Regions from separate parts of the Homo sapiens genome. Here region 2 is linked to region 1. The links come from fine-mapping of genetic effects on gene expression. A gene starts in region 1. The other region holds a variant in brackets. All regions are shown on one strand. Distances are between the middles of the regions. Region 1 holds the start of SUPT5H (SPT5 homolog, DSIF elongation factor subunit). Region 2 overlaps TIMM50 (translocase of inner mitochondrial membrane 50).

What was found. PIP is the estimated chance that this variant, and not a neighbour inherited with it, causes the effect.
Region 2: its variant is the best candidate, but not a certain one, in a credible set for the expression of SUPT5H in fibroblasts (GTEx, PIP 0.89).

What each region holds. Positions count from the first base shown.
Region 1 is chr19:39,444,295-39,447,097 of GRCh38, forward strand. It overlaps SUPT5H (SPT5 homolog, DSIF elongation factor subunit), which reads left to right and starts at 1,288. Exons shown (of 30, transcript NM_001111020.3): 1 at 1,288-1,343; 2 at 1,510-1,671. The coding sequence starts at 1,597. RefSeq lists enhancers at 531-1,328, 1,088-1,357, 1,329-2,125, 1,498-1,717.
Region 2 is chr19:39,487,811-39,490,613 of GRCh38, forward strand. TIMM50 (translocase of inner mitochondrial membrane 50) reads left to right here. Exons shown (of 11, transcript NM_001001563.5): 9 at 251-407; 10 at 729-835; 11 at 1,909-2,803. The coding sequence ends at 2,010. Among named protein-coding and RNA genes, the nearest start is that of TIMM50, 8.4 kb to the left of the region's middle. The variant G/A (reference allele first, on the strand shown) is at 1,687.

The sequences.
Region 1 (2,803 bases):
CCTGCCTCAGCCTCCCGAGTAGCTAGAATCACAGGCACATGCCACCACGCCCGGCTAATTTTTTTGTATTTTTAGTAGAGACGGGGTTTCACCATGTTGGCCAGACTGGTTTCGAACTCCTGACCTCAGGCAATCTGCCCGCCCCGGCCTCCCAATGTGTTGGGATTACAGGCATGAGCCACCGCGACTGACATAGACTTCTGATTTTTAAAATTTCCCCTATCAGGTTAATTTTTCAATTTTTAAAAATTTAAGTTTTAATTTTTTTTTTTTTTTTTTTTTAGAGACAGGGTCTCTATTACCCAGTCTGGAGTGCAGTGGTGCAATCATAGCTCACTGAAGCCTCAACATGGGTTCAAGTGATCCTCCCACCTTAGCCTTTGGAGTAGCAGGGACCACAGGCACACGCCACCACACCACATTAAAAAAAACACAAAAATTGGATACATGGGGTCTCAATTTGTTGCCCATGCTAGTCTCAAATACCTGGCCTCAGGTGATCCTCCCGCCTCAGCCTCCCAAAGCGCTGGGATTACAGGCGAAGGTTCATTTTTCATCTCTCCATTACACCTGTCCACTCTGCCATCACTCGTCAGCCGTCATTACTAATAGATAAATTCGCCTTTAAATGAACTTAGGAAGCCTGGAAAGAAAAATAGGGACTTGGGCCGGGCGCGGCAGGTTATGCCTGTGATCTCAGCACTTTGGCAGGACGAGGCCGGAGGATGGCTTTTTAGTTTGAGTTAGAGGAGTTTGAGACCAGGCCGGGCAACAGCCCGACTCTACCAAAAAAAAAAAAAAAGTACAAAAAGAAAGAAAAAGAAGGAAAAACCAGGGCTTCACGGTCACTCAGACTTGGCGAGGAGGCTTGGGTCTGCCGCTTTCCACTGAGTTTTTCTGAGCTTCAGCGTTCTCTCCAAAACGGGGATACGGATCTCCTGGGGATGCTTTAGAGGGCCTAGGAGATAAAGCCTTGTTTCTTTTATAATTTGCTATTCGCTGATTTCGCCGCCTCCTCGCAGCTTGGCCTACCGCGCTAGTGTTCCGGACTAACGAACAAACGGCTCACTAAATTCAAACATGAGTTTCAGCCTGGTCGCCGAGCCGGCGGGTAGAAAAAACCTTTCCCCTCCTAACCCTCCGCAGATGTCGGCCCCGCACTCCGCCCAGGCCAGCCCTGCCTCTCTCAAGATGGCGACCTGGAAGTGCGTCGCCCGTGCCAGCCCCGGAAATCTCGTGTTAGGCGAGGTCAACGGGTAGGTTCTCGCGAGAGGACCCGTCAGCCCCAGTCAGGCGTCGTGCGAACAGCAGCTGGTACCGAAGGCGGAGGTGGAGCCCGAGAGGTAAGTGCGTGTGCAGAGGTGGCAGTTCCGGGCGCCGGGGAGGTGTAGAGAACAGATTCGGAAACTGGGGAGGTCTAGCATGTGGCGTAGGAGGGGGTCCTCACTCCGCTTCGCGATTGCCAAAACGAGCCTGCCGGAAGCGCCCTAAGGGGTTTTCTTCTCCCAGGGAACCAGCGGGGAAACTGAGGCTCGGGGTGGAGCGCAGGATTGTGGGACGCGCCAAGGCTGCTGTCTTTCCCAGCAGCAGCGGAAGATGTCGGACAGCGAGGACAGCAACTTTTCCGAGGAGGAGGACAGCGAGCGCAGCAGTGACGGCGAGGAGGCCGAGGTCTGTGGCTGGGGCGCTGGGGGAGACATTGCGTCTGGGGACAGGACTCCGGGCAGAAAGGCCCCTGTGGGAGGCTCGAGGGGTTCACAGCGGGCTCTGGCTTCTGGGAACTCCCAGATTGTCTCAAGAGATAGAGAATTAGGCAAGTCGAAGTCAAGCAAAGGGACAGGTTCTGGAGGCCAGAAATGGGTCAGGTCCAGTGAGATAACAGGTGATGTTTTGAAAGTTTACTCTGTGTGCATATAGTAAGCACTTAGCATTAGTTTTTTTTTTTAGTTATGTCTAGTCATTCCATAACTATATTTGTAGTGCCTACTATGTACCAGGCGCAATTCTTTGCTCTTAGGGTACACCAGTAAACAAAAAGATTTTAAAAATGTCTGCCTTCGGGAATGTAAATAAATATAGCCAAGGAATAAACTATATAGTAAGCTGGAAGGTACTCTGGAGAAAAGAACAGAAAAGGGGAATGGAGAGTCCTGGTTGCTCTTGAAATAGGGTCATCAGCATGAGTCTGAGGGGTGACATTTGAGCAAAAACTTGTTGGAGGTGAGGGAGTGAGTCGTGGTTAGCTGGAAGTGTAGTGTTCCAGTGAGGGGGACCAGCAGGTGCAGAGATGGGAGTGTGTCCGCCGTGTTCAGGGATTAACGAGGATTTGAGAGGCCAAGCTGGGAGGATCACTTGAGCCCAGAAGTTTGAGAGCAATCTCGGTAACACAACGGGACCCTGTCTCTACAAAAATATAAAAACCATTGGCTGAGGCCGGGCTTGGTGGCTCACACCTGTAATCTCAGCACTGTGGGAGGCCAAGACAGTGGATCACCTGAGGTCAGGAGTTCAAGACCAGCCTGGTCAACATGGTGAAACACCATTTCTACTAAAAATACAAAAAAATTAGCTTGGCATGGTGGCGCCCACCTGTAATCCCAGCTACTCGGGAGGCTGAAGCTGAGAATCGCTTGAACCAGGGAGGTGGAGACTGTGGTGAGCTGAGATCGCGCCACTGCACTGCAGCCTGGGCGACGAGCAAGACTCCGTCTTATAAAAATATTAGCTGAGCTTGGTGGCACGCTTCTGTAGTCCCAGCTACTTGGGAGGCTGAGGTGGGAAGATTGCTTGAGCCAGAAGGTGA
Region 2 (2,803 bases), 44 kb after region 1:
TGAACTCCTGACCTCAGGTGATCCGCCCGCCTCGGCCTCCCAAAGTGCTGGGATTACAGGCGTGAGCCACCATGCCTGGCCCTCTGTGGGGGTCGATGCCATCATCCAAAGCCGGTCTTTGAGAGGCCCTGCCATTGTGATCCCAGTATGTGTGATGCTGTGTATGTATGTATGTTTTGTGTGTTTTGGGTCTTCTTGATGGGGGGAGAGTTGGGCACAGATGTTGACCTGATCTGTCACTCACTTCCAGGATATTTCATGTCTGAATCGGGACCCAGCTCGAGTAGTAGTTGTGGACTGCAAGAAGGAAGCCTTCCGCCTGCAGCCCTATAACGGCGTTGCCCTGCGGCCCTGGGACGGCAACTCTGATGACCGGGTCTTGTTGGATCTGTCTGCCTTCCTCAAGAGTAAGGCTGACCCCTGATCCCTTGGCCTCTGACCCCAGAGCCCCTGACTCTGAAGAGGAAGGATAAATGCATGATTCATGGCTGGGCGACTGAGGTGCAAGAGGTGCCTGAGCACCTTGGAGTCTTTAGGAGCTTCTTAGGATGTTCATGGAATGTTTGGGGGATACTTGGGGATGTTCAGGGGAGCCCTTTCAGAGCGTTCAGAAGCATTCCAGGTAGCACTGACTGCCCCCGTGCCCCAGTGCGGGACGTTCCCCTCATGGGCCCTGCCTCCCTCTGGCCTTTAGAAGCCTGGCTGACCACCCCCTGTTGTGCCCACAGCCATTGCACTGAATGGTGTGGAGGACGTGCGAACCGTGCTGGAGCACTATGCCCTGGAGGATGACCCGCTGGCGGCTTTCAAACAGCGGCAAAGCCGGCTAGAGCAGGTTGGTGCTCAGATGCCCAGAGTGGAGGATCGGCTCTGAGGCTCCTGAAGGAGGAGCCTGGGGCAGTCCATCTCCACACTCTTGGTTTGGCTGTGTGACCCTGAGCAGATACCTCCTCTCTGCCTCAGTCTCTGTAACCAGGGGGATATAACACAGCCTGTCCTGTAGGGCTGCCAGAATGAGGGGATGCATTGATTCTGCAGCCTGCTCTGAGAACAGGAAACAGGAGAGGATTTGAGATTAGGCTGGGAGAGGGGTTGCCCTTGATGGTCTTGAGTAGGTCTGGGGGCACCTTGTGGAGGTGGATTGTGGGTTTTAGATCAGGCCTGGAAAGAGGCTCCCTGGGCACGTGGCCCAAGGCTGTGGGGAGAGATGTGATAGTCTTGGTGGGACCCTGGTAATTTGGAAGTGGGACTGAGAGTATGGATTGCGTCTGGGTAAGATTCCCAGGGGTCTAGGCTGAGGTTCACCAGATTCTAGGTTAGGTTCCTAGAGTTGGGAGCCCCTGAGTGCCCAGAGAAGTCCCTAGAGATTTGGGCCTGGGGACCCCCCAGGGAACCCCCCACCCCTGCATCCAGAGAGGGGTCATGGGGCTCAGAGGGCCCAGGGGCAGGATGATGCAGTCTGGTGAGGAGGGCCATGGGGTTTGGACCTGGGATCTCACCAGCATTCACCTTGGGGTAACAGGGTCTGCGATAGGATCTCAGGCTCAGGGGAGGGGTCCCTGGGATCTGGGGAAGGAGATTATGACAGTCTGGGGCCTGAGAACCTACTGCAGTTCAGGCCTGAATACCTCGAGTGCCTAGTATTGGAGTCTGTCGTCCCCCAAACATTGAAGCCTAGGCTCCTGC[G/A]GCTCAGAGCTGGCTCTTCCTAGTGTCTGGGGTGGGGGGACTGGGGTCTAGGGTCCCTTGTGTCTGGGCTGGGGGCCCCAGGGTTTGGGGAAAGGGGTCTGGACTTGGCAGAAGTCAGAAGGAAAGGTGGTCCCTGGGCTGAGGCCTGGGGACCTGGGCATCTGGGAGGAGGCTCTGTCCACCTTGCGCTGACCCTCTCCTCCAACTGTCCCCCTACCCCAGGAGGAGCAGCAGCGCCTGGCCGAGCTCTCCAAGTCCAACAAGCAGAACCTCTTCCTTGGCTCCCTCACCAGCCGCTTGTGGCCTCGCTCCAAACAGCCCTGAACTCTGGGCCTCCTCAAACTCAGTGCCTGGGTCCAGGGCCCCAGTGCTTCCAGACCAAGACTTGGGCCACCACTTGTCCAATAAAGTACATCCCAGACGCCACACCTGCTGTGTCCCGAGAGTCTCCAGATGGGGGCATCAGGGTGAGGTCCGGGACTCTTGGGTCATCGTCCCACAGTGGCTGATCGGCTGCCAAGCACAGTGGGGGTGCTTTGTTGGATCAGAGCAGATTTTTCACCCTGGTCTCGGAATCTAAAAACCCTCGCTGTGTCTTCCTGTGTGTTGCGTGATCTGTGAAAAATACATCTCCCTCTGACCACAGACTCCTCATCTGTGGAGAAGGGAAGAGAGGATGGCACTTGGCTTTAAAGACAGGTAGCTGCCAGGCTACTGTGGAGAGAATGTGTTATGGGCCTAGTGGGCCTCTGGTGGACCAGAGATTACCCCTCTCAACAGGCCAGCTGCTGGTTGGCTCCAGCCAGTGTGGCCCTGGGGTAAAGGGGGCCTGGAGTTGCTTGACACGCCAGTTGTTCAAAAGAAGCAAGAACTTGGGAATATTTTTTTTTTTTTTTTGAGACAGGGTCTCACTGTTGCCCAGGCTGGAGTGCATTGATGTGATCTTAGCTTACAACAGCCTTGACCTCCCGGCTCAAGTGATCTCCAAGTGACCCTCCTGCCTCAGCCTCCTGAGTACCCTCCTGGGGACTACAGGTGCGTGCTACCATACCCAGCTAATTTAAACAAATTTTTTTTTTGTAGAGATGGGGTCTTGGTGCCCAAGCTGGTCTCAAAC